Regions from separate parts of the Homo sapiens genome. Here region 2 is linked to region 1. A link means that fine-mapping ties the variant in region 1 to the expression of a gene that starts in the linked region. Tissue or cell type: whole blood. Region 1 holds a variant in brackets; the other region holds the start of a gene. All regions are shown on one strand. Distances are from middle to middle.

Region 1 (5,377 bases):
GTTTTGCTATGTTGCCCAGGGTGGTCTCGAACTTGTGAGCTCATGTGATCTGCCTGCCTAAGCCTCCCAAAGTGCTGGGATTACAGGTATGAACTACTGCGCCCGGCCTCATCTGAAGTTTTGATTGTCTTTCCAGGATTATGAGTTTGACAAACTAAGCACTCACTGGTTACAAACCATCCTAGTAATTCTAGAACAGTCGCCACACCATTATTTTTCCATAATTTGTTTCATTTTGTCTGTGGTATGAAGAGTCATGGAACAGAGGATTTTTTTTGTTTTGTTTTGAGGCAGGGTTTCAGTCTGTCACCCAGGCTGGAGTGCAGTGACGTGATCACACGAGGTCACTGCAGCATTGACCTCTTGGTCTCAAGTGATCCTCCCACCTTAGCCCCCTGAGTAGCTGGGACCACAGGCTTGGGCCACTACACCCGGCTAATTTTCGTGTTTTTTTGTAGAGATGGGGTTTCACCATGTTGCCTAGGCTAGTCTTGAACTCCTGAGCAGAAGCAATTCACTCGCCTTGGCCTCCCAAAGTGCTGAGATTGTAGGCATGAGCCACTTGCCCAGCCTGCACAGAACTTTTAATAATGGAAGCTTTAAGGACTCAGAAAAGACCAAGTAGTTGTCTAAGCCCTCTATGAGTCTACGCTTAATGTTGAATTTACATCCTTTCAAGTACAAGTTTTATTTCTCCAATTAAGATGCATAACCCTGTCCAATGAATAGGTCATCATAGGTGATTTGACTTGGATAAATCTTAGGGAGTTCATTCAGCTTCTATATCTTAACAATTTCACAATCAACTGACTTAGCATGAAAATCTGACTTAGCATTTAAGTAATTCTTGTTCTTTTGATGGTGGGTTAACAGTTTTATGAACCAGTGAGTTTCTTCATACGAGTTCTGAGAATTTTTTTTTCCTTGAGACAGAGTCTTGCCCTGTTGCCCAAGCTGGAGTGCAGTGGTGCAATCTCAGCTCACTGCAACCTCTGCCTTCTGGGTTGAAACGGTTCTCTGGCCTCAGTCTCCTGAGTAGCTGGGACTACAGGTACCTGCTACCACTCCCGGCTAATTTTTGTATTTTCAGTAGAGACGGGGTTTCACCATGTTGGCCAGGTTGGTCTCGAACTCCTGACCTTGGGATCTGCCTGCCTTGGCCTCCCAAAGTGCTGGGATTACAGGCATGAGCCACCACGCTCGGTGAGTTCTGAGAATTCTTACCCAGTTTAATGATACGATCTTAAAGTAATCACAAACCTGTACTTGTCAGAATCTTTTCCGTGAGCCTCCTTGAAGACAAAACTATATAGGCTTATAGTTGCTTAGGAAAGTACCGAGCAAACAACCGTCTGTGAGTGACAGGACTTAAAATGTCCATGGTTAAAGAGCTGTTGAAATTTCATTCAATAATGACACAATTGACAAGGAAATTTAGTTGTTTCTGTGGAATACAACCATTTAACATAATAACTGAAATTATGGCTGATCACGTATCAAATTTCTAAAAATTGTAAACAATTTTCTAGAACACATATGAGTAAAATTCAAAGAAGGTTCAGCATTACTTATTATTTGACAGTACTTCCCATATAATTTAGTATACTAAATAAGCCTAATTCGTATAATATCTCCCCTTTACAAGGTGAGAGATGTATCCTTTGAGGCTTTCTCAGGGCCCAGCAAGAGAATCCCAAAGTTAATTCTTGGTCAGAAAGACTAAATTTAGAGTTTGATTTTGGTTTAAATATCACCAAGGTTTAAAACATTTCATCAAAATGGGATCACAAGTAACTATGAAATAATAGTCATTAATTTAACCAGAGTGATAAAGACTTCAAAGGTGAATATAAAAAGCAACATATTTGGAGGAAAAACCTTAGCTCTTTAATAGTTTTCTATAGTTATCAAAAACCTGATAAAGACAACGTGAAGGACAAAAAGTTATTTTGGTAGAACGCAGTCTTCATTTCCTTTGCCAGTTTCCTAAAAGGTAAAGAAACCCCCCAACTTTTTTTTTTTTACCTTGTTTTCTTTTTTTTTCTTTTTTCTTTCTTTTTTTTTTTTTTTTTTTTGAGATGGAGTTTCATTCTTGTTGCCCAGGCTGGAGTGCAGTGGCGTGATCTCGGCTCACTGCAACTTCTGCCTCCCGGCTTCAGGCGAATTCTCCTGCCTTAGCCTCCCAGGTAGCTGGGATTACAGGCACCCACCACCATGCTTGGCCGATTTTTGTATTTTTAGTACAGACAGGTTTCACCATGTTGGCCAGGCTGGTCTTGAACTCCTGACCTCAGGTGATCCACCTGCCTCAGCCTCCCAAAGTGCTGGGATTACAGGGGTGAGTCACCACGCCCTGCTGATCACAATAAAATTTCTTTCACATGATTCACCGTCCACAAACCTCCTACAACCTTCTTATATTCCATCAGTTTTTTATTTATCCTATCTATACCTTCCCTCTTTCTCATTTTGGGGCAACCTGTCATTCTACGTTAGGGTGAAAATTACTCTTTTTTTCCTTAACAAAGACACATATTTCATACCTCATAGCTTCACTTAACAAAAACATATCTTTTTTTTCCTTGCATATGGAGTTGTTTCCCATATTATTTCCAGTTTTTTTTTTTTTTTGGAGACAGTTTCAGTCTTGTCGCCCAGGCTGGAGTGCAATGGCGCGATCTCGGCTTACTGTAACCTCAGCTTCCCAGGTTCAAGTGATTCTCCTGTCTCAGCCTCCTGAGGTGGCAGCCGCCCCCATGCCCGGCTAATTTTTGTATTTTTTGTGGAGACAGGGGTTCACCGTGTTGGTCAGGCTGGTCTCGAACTCCTGACCTCAGGTGATCTGCCTGCCTCAGCCTCCCCAAAGTGCT[G/A]GGATTACAGGCGTGAGCCACTATGCCTGGGCTTATTTCCAGTTTTCACTAGCTTATATTGATTAGAATTTTAAACTGTTACTAACCTCAATTTCTAGTGAAAACATAAGAAGTAAAACAATTTTAAACTGTTATATACTAACATTTCATGAATATACATTTGTAATTTCTAGAAATATGTGCTTCCTCCTAGAACAATGTTTTCATGTTTATGAACAAACCCAAATATATTCAGCTTCTCTATATTGTACAAAACCAAGATGCCAAAGTATTTATACTTGAAACTTATGTTTAGCAGTTAATGTTCTAGTATTTTAACTAAGAAATGACTCAGACATTTTATAAATATCTATTACTTTAAAATTCCAAATTGCTGCAAAAGATTTTTGAAACAATGACAAATTCATTTATAAACTTTTATGCTGTCCATATTCACCTAATTTATTCTTTTTTTTTTAACAGTTATTATTTAATTGCTCACTAAACAAAACTAGCCATTGAAAGCATTCAGGGAATGCCACCCCAAAATGTGTTGCTTTGGTAGTCACATTTTTGGTATATTAATTACTTTGAGTTGAAGGCAAAACACAGGGCAAGGCCTCCTGAGTTCTCTTTCATCTGCCAAAAGACAGATCCTACAAAAGGAACTCAACTGCGTCAGTCTTCTGAAGATTAACCCTTTTTTATTTTTTTGAGACAGAGTTTCGCTCTGTCAGCCAGGCTGGAGTGCAGTGGTGCGATCTCGACTCACTGCAACCTCCACCTCCCAGGTTCAAGCAATTCTCTTGCCTCTTTCTCCCTAGGAGCTGGTATTACAGGTGCCTGCTACCATGCCTGGCTAATTGTTGTATTTTTAGTAGAGAGGGGGTTTCGCCATGTTGGCCAGGCTGGTCTCAAACTCCTGACCTCAGGTGATCTGCCCGTCTGGGCCTGCAAAAGTGCTGGGGTTACATATGTCAGCCACTGCACCCGGCCAAGATTAACTCCTATCACAGGAGACGAGATCAGAAGGCCACCCCAGCTGGCCCATCATCCATTCTTCCAAGGACCTATCTATCTTTTCCGCATTTACTCTGCGGATATTTTCTTTATCCCCCGACTGTTTTCATTCTAGCAAGGGGGTTAAATCAGAGGACACTTCGATTACTCATTATTGCCCCCAGGGATTGTCAGCTAGCCTGATAACCAGATTTCAGGCCAAAATAGTATTATTTGCCAAGACAAACAAACACGCAAGCCTGGTGAAGACAAAATGGTGAAAGGCAAGGCCTGTGAAACAAAGTTAAGTCTTGACCTTCTCCATTTTGAAAGTTTCTAGTGATTTAGGGTGCAAAGAGGGACACACCCCACAAATGGAGACTTTTCCCACAGAAGTAAATTTCTTTTACAAAAAAAAAAAAAAAAAAGAGTCTAAAACGAAATAACTAAAATAACTAAAGATAGGCAGCTTCCCAAGCCAGCCTGTGTTTTCTTTTTTTGGAGATAGAGTCTTGCTCTGTCCCCCAGGCTGGAGTGCAGTGGCACGATCTTGGCTCACTGCAACCTCCATCTCTGGGGTTCAAGCGATTCTTGTGCGTCAGCCTCCCAAGTAGCTGGGACTACAGGCACCTACCAATGTTCCCGGCTAATTTTCGTATTTTTGTAGAGACAGGGTTTCACCATGTTCGCCAGGCTGGTCTCGTACTCCTGACCTCAAGTGATCTGCCCGCCTCGGCCTCCCAAAGTGCTAGGATTACAGGCGTGAGCCACCGCGCCTGGCCTCAGCCTGCATTTTCTAACTAGATTACTGAATTCAGGTGGAAACCCATTATGAACAGGGCTGAATTTAAGATTTTCACCAAACCATAAAAGTGGCTAAAGAAGCAGACCTCGTTGATCTGAGAGCTTAACTTTTATAAATCACTTTTATTTGTTTTTGTTTTTAAGATTGGAAGGTTACTAAGAGAAAAAGTAAATTCAGACTAGGCAGAGGAGGATAGAAAGATAGAGAAAAGGTGCGGTCAGAATTGTCAGTCAACATAAAATATTTTTTCTCATCAATGAGTCACTTAAGCTTTCTATTTGCCTTTTATAAAGAATCTATTAAAAGAGGCAATGTTTGATTCATTTAATCATTTAGATGCCCCTGCAAACCAGTTAAAAGTGCATCCTGGCCAGGTGCAGCGGCCCCTGCTGTAATCCCAGCACTTTGGGAGGACAAGGCGGGTGCGTGGCTTGAGCCCAGGAGTTCAAGACCAGCCTGGACAACATGGCGAAACCCCATCTTGATATACATGTATATACATCTCCCACAAAAAATTAACTGGGCATGGTTGCAGGTGCCTGTACTCAGGAGGCTGAGGCAGGGAGGATCAATTGAGCTCAGGAGGCAGAGGTTGCAGTGAGTTGAAATCATACCGCTGCACTCCAGCCTTGGTGACAGAGCAAGACTGTGTCTCAGGAAAAGAAAAAAAATGCATCCCATTGTTTTTTGGGGTGTTTTGATTCTTCCTTTTCTAATGTGCCTC
Region 2 (5,377 bases), 33 kb before region 1:
TTGGGCAGGAGAGGCACTTTGTGGATCGTTGTAAACATTTCTGTTTATTTTTCATTATAAAGAATTTAAGCGGCTGGGCGCAGTGTCTCACTCCTGTAATCCTAGCATTTTGGGAGGCTGAGGCAGGTGGATTGCTTGAGCTCAGGAGGTTGAGACCAGCCTGGCCAACATGGCAAAACCCCGTCTCTACTAAAAATACAAAAAATTAGCTGGGTGTGGTGGCACGCACCTGTAGTCCCAGCTAATTGGGAGGCCAGCTGAGGCAGGAGAATCACTTGAACCTGGGAGGTGGAGGGTGCAGCGAGCCGAGATTGCACCACTGCACTCCAGCCTGGGTGACAGGGCGAGACTCCGTCTCAAAAAAAAAGAAAAGAATTTAAGCATCCACAAAAGTAGAAACAGAAACATTTAATGAACCTCTACGTGCCCGTTCCCCAGGTTCAACAATGGTTAATTTTTTATTTTTAAGAGACAGGGTCTTTCACTGGAGTGCAGTGGCACCATTACGGCTCACTGCAGCCTCAAACTCCTGGGCTCAAGTGATCCTCCCCACTCAGCCTCCCTAGTAGCTGGGACTACAGGCCCAGCTACCATCTGCCACCATGTCCAGCTACTTTTTAAAAACTTTTTGTAGCGACGAGATCTTGCTTTTTTGCCCAGGCCGGTCTCAAACTCTTGGGCTCAAACAATCTGCCCACCTTGTCCTCCCAAAGTGCTGGGATTACAGGTGTGAACCACCATGCCCAGCCTAAGAATGGTTAATTCATGGCCAATTTTGTTTAATCTCTACTCCATCCACTTTTCTCTTCCATCATATTTTGAAGTGAGTCTAAGATATTGTGTCATTTTATGGCTATTGCAGCGTGCAGGAAGAGGTATGACATTTTGGAAGATGAGTTGATGGGCCGTGCCACATGGGTATTGTGTCTCTGTGTGCCTGTACATACTCTCTTATGTGGAATTGCAATGGCTGATTTGACTCTTCCAAGTTGGGGGTCTTTTAAGGGCAAAGACCACCCTCCAGTGGCCAGGCTGTCTTCTCCTCCCCATGGAGTGCTTGGTATATGGTGCGACCGTCAGTGTGAACAACCTAGTTCCACTGGAAGAAAGAGGCCTGTTATTGGACCCTTTGGGCTATGGCCATCGAGACCACGGGTAGCTTTTCTGCTCAGGTCACGCTCTGATATGTTGTCAAATAAAACACAGGACACTCAGCTGGGTTTCAGTTTCAGATCAACAACAAATATGCCTGTAACATAAGTATGTCCCACACATTGCCCGGGGCATATTTATAGTAATAAATGACGTTATTTTTCTGAAATTCAAATTTAATCAGGCTTTTTTTTTTTTTTTTGAGATGGAGTTTTGCTCTGTTGCCCAGGCTGGAGTGCAGTGGCGTGATCTTGGCTCACTGCAAGCTCGGCCTCTCGGGTTCACGCCATTCTCCTGCCTCAGACTCCCGAGTAGCTGGGACTACAGGCGCCTGCCACCACGCCCAGCTAATTTTTTGTATTTTTAGTAGAGACGGGGTTTCACCGTATTAGCCAGGATGGTCTCGATCTCCAGACGTTGTGATCTGCCCGCCTCGGCCTCCCAAAGTGCTGGGATTATAGGCGTGAGCCACAGCGCCCAGCCCAGGCATCTTGTTTCTATCTATTTATTTATTTTGTTTTGTTTTTGGCTAAATCTAGTCAATCCTATCCTCTGGTCTTTTCACAGAAATCCTGCAGATCAAAGCCTTTGACCTAGGGCAGTGCTTTTCAAAGGGTGGTCCCAGGACAGCAGCATCAGCAACTCCTAGCTCAAAACAAGATCTCAGGCCAGGCGCGGTGGCTCATGCCTATAATCCAGCACTTTGGGAGGCCCACACGAGTGGATCATTTGAGGTCAGGGGTTCGAGGCCAGCCTGGGCAACGTGGTGAAACCCCGTCCCTACTAAAAAAAAAAAAAAAAAAAAAAAAAAACAAAAATTAGCGGGGCTTGGCAGCATGCACCTGTGATCCCAGCTACTCGGGAGGCTGAAGCAGGAGAATCGCTTGAACATAGGAGGCAGAGGCTGCAATCACCCGAGATTGGGCCACGGCACTCCAGCCTGGGCGAAAGAGCGAGACTCCATCTCAAAAAAACAAAAGCAAAAACAAAAAAATCCCAAAATGTCAGCCCCACCCAGAATGACGGAACCAGAGCCTCTGGGGGTGCTGGCATTTTGTGTTTGACCCCCTCCAGTGATTCTTTTGAGGGTCATTGACTGGAGAATGATGCCGATGCCATCACATTACCCGCCCCCAGCCTCTCCCGCAACACACACACAGCACATCCTGCTCTGCTGCGCACCCAGTGGCATGGACCTGGCTGCCAAAGGTGTAGAAGCATAAGTAACATCAGGGGTGTTACAAAGGGCTCTTTCCTTGGGTGTTTGTAGCTTCCCTTAGGGCTGCAGTCACTCGCAGACTGCTGGGCTCTTGGCCTCAGGGCTCTGTTCTGCCCGCCCAGATCTGTTCCTGAGCCTGCAGACGGCTGTGAACCAGAGAATCTATTCTTCAGGCGGGAGTTGCCAGTTGCGGCCAAGGGGGCGGGGCCCGGAGGCGGGAGGGCCACGTGTGCGGGAGGGAAGCAGGAAGTGACTGCGGGAGTGGAGCCGGCGAGAGAGTGGCAGCGGGGGCTGATGGAAGTGCAGTGGGGGCTGGAGAGGGCACCCTAGTGAGTTGGCTTTTCTCTCCTTCGGTGCCTTTGGTTGGGCTCGAGGCCCGGGGTCGGAGGCCATCAGGACAAGAGTGTGGGACTTGGAAGGGCAGCCACCTGGAGCTTGGAAGGGGGTACGCCTGGAGAGAGGAGGGGTTTGGAGGAGAAATTGGAGGCTTTGGCAGGTGTCGGGGCGGGGTGGGAGGGTGAGGGGCGGTGGGAAGGAAGTCCCCGGACCCCGGCTATGTCCCTCTCCAGGGTGATCTGGAAGGCAATGACATGCCTTCCTTTTACAGTCCTAACCCAAATCCTCTTCGTTCGTCCCTTCCTAGGCGGTGTGTGGGGGTACCCGGGATTCCTGGGAGCAGAGGCAGCTACAAATCCAGCTGCTCCCAGGCCCCTCCCACTTGCTCTGGCTGTTAGCTGGACCTCTGGAACTTGACTGGGAATCTGGTTAACTTGCAGCAGGTCTGGGTGGGGCGTGACAGTGTGCATTTCTAACTAATTCCCAGGTTGGGTGGTCCGCGGACCACGCTTTGAGTAGCGAGGCATTAGAGAACTTTTCCACAGTCCTCTCCGCCCAGACCTGAATCCTTCTGCTGGATTCCCCCTCGTGGAGTTAGGGCATGTGTGTGCAGCTCCACTAAGGCCCAGCAGCCCTAGTGCTGTTTCCACTTCTGCAACTTCACCAGCCTCTTGAACTGACTCTTGGAAGCGGAACAACAGGTTTAAAAGGGGGAGAAAGGAAATAAAGAAAACAAACCTGTATCAATCAGCCGGGAATGCCCATGTGCTGCTGTGGCAGGTGTGTACAAGTCTACAGGCTGTTGGCATGTTAAAAGTTGGAACGGTCAGAGAATGATTCTCCCTGCTGCTAACGAATCAGGGTTGATGGAATTAATATCCCCATCGTGAGGAATTCTGAGCCCCATTGTGTAAGCTGTGATGGAGATGCTGTGTCCTAAAGTTGTTACTGGTCTGCCGGTTAGAGAAAACTTCTTGTTCTCTTGGGACTCTGCCAGAAACTTTTTCTTCTCTTGAGACTCTGCAGAAAACTTTCTGTTCTTTTGGGACTCTTCTTTGCTCTTGCCAATCCCACATGGGGCAGGAGAACTCATTTTCTAAGCTCTTGGTATTGTAGAAGTTTTACCAGTTTTATTTATTTATTTATTTTTATTTTTTTTTGAGACAGAGCCTTGCTCTGTCACCCGGACTGGAGTGCAGTGGCGCGATCTCGGCTCACTGCAACCTCCGCCTCCCGGGTTCAAGCGATTACTCCTGCCTCAGCCTCCCGAGTAGCTGGGACTACAGGCACTGGGACTACAGGCACACACCACGACGCCCAAGTAATTTTTGTGTTTTTAGTAGAGATGGGGTTTCACCGTGTTGGCCAGGCTGGTCTCGAACTCCTGACCTCAGGTGATCTGCCCGTCTTGGCCTCCCAAGGTGCTGGGATTACAGGCATGAGCCACTGCGCCTGGCCAAGTTTTACCAGTTTTAATCTTTTGCTTTCCACAGTTTAATGTGCATAAGAATCCCCCATGGAATTCCACAAAATGCAGACCCTGATTCAGAAAGTCTGGGGTGAGACCTGAGTTTCTGCATTCCTAACTAGCTCCCAAGCCGGACCAGTGCTGCTGGTTCTCTGACCACCCTTGTAGCGAGGATTTAAAACAGCAAATAGAGAAGAAACTTCTCCGAGGGGCACTGGGCTTGCATTGCCCGTGATCAATGCTGCTCCTGTTGGGATGGAAAGGATGGTGGCCTCGGTCTTCCCTCTGTGTCCCTTTTTCTTACTCAGGAGGGTGCTCAGATATACATGGGGACAGGCTTAGACGGGTGTTTCCCTATCCCACTAACCACCAGGAACACCCACGAGCTCCCTCTGTTCTGTTCACCAGCCCACAAGATCCACATTGACTTTGGCCTGTTGGCAAATGTAAATTGTTTGCTCTCTTCTGTAGCTGTCAAGAGGCACATTCAAATACAGGAAAGAAAGGTGTTTTTGTTATGCCCTGTCTTGGATGATAAGTACTAAGAGGATGATCCCTTTGTGCTGTTCTTTGTAAATGCTGTTTGAAATTTTGTCCACAGCAACTCGGAATAGATGATTGGTGTAATGGTCCAGATGGCTTGGTTTAAAAACAAAGACCAACCCCTCTTTTTAGGGTGGCTTAGCAAGATGACGGATGTAAAGGGTAGTAGTTTTTTGAAAATGATTTTTTTTTTCTTTAATTGGCGTGGTCACAGTTTTCACAGTTGGTGCAGTTCGTTTAGAGTGCGGGAACTAGAGTCTGATTCCATAGATGCTATTTATCTCAGAGTTTCTGGCACAGGGGCTGAGCCAGGGCTCACCTGGGCTCACCTGGACCTATACCCTTCCTAGGTTTGAGCCTGGGTGTGTTGCTGAGCCGCTTGGCATAAGGGCTGCGTCCACACTCTGCCATGGTTTCCTTCCAGGGTCAATCGAGGCAGCGTCTTCAGCTCTTGATCTGCAGGCTCAGGGCTGCTGGCTCCTCACAGAGCACCGGGAACTGGCAGGGCTGAGCCCAGTGTGGTTGTGTCCAGCCAGCCCTCTGGGTGCTGGCAGACCATCAGGGAGATGAATGAGGCTTTGATATGAGGCCCTGAGCCCAGTGTTTGTGTACCAGAACACAGGGCTTTTCAACAAATGGGTTTCTCTGCCTTGTAACTT

The links.
Region 2: it holds the start of SLC39A11, and the variant in region 1 is fine-mapped to the expression of SLC39A11 in whole blood (TOPMed, PIP 0.95).

The regions. Positions count from the first base shown.
Region 1 is chr17:73,056,909-73,062,285 of GRCh38, reverse strand. All of the region lies in intron 3 of SLC39A11 (solute carrier family 39 member 11), which reads left to right. Among named protein-coding and RNA genes, the nearest start is that of SLC39A11, 33 kb to the left of the region's middle. The variant G/A (reference allele first, on the strand shown) is at 2,871.
Region 2 is chr17:73,089,934-73,095,310 of GRCh38, reverse strand. It overlaps SLC39A11 (solute carrier family 39 member 11), which reads left to right and starts at 2,623. Exons shown (of 10, transcript NM_139177.4): 1 at 2,623-2,700. RefSeq lists a silencer at 3,463-3,694 and enhancers at 4,665-5,165, 5,166-5,377.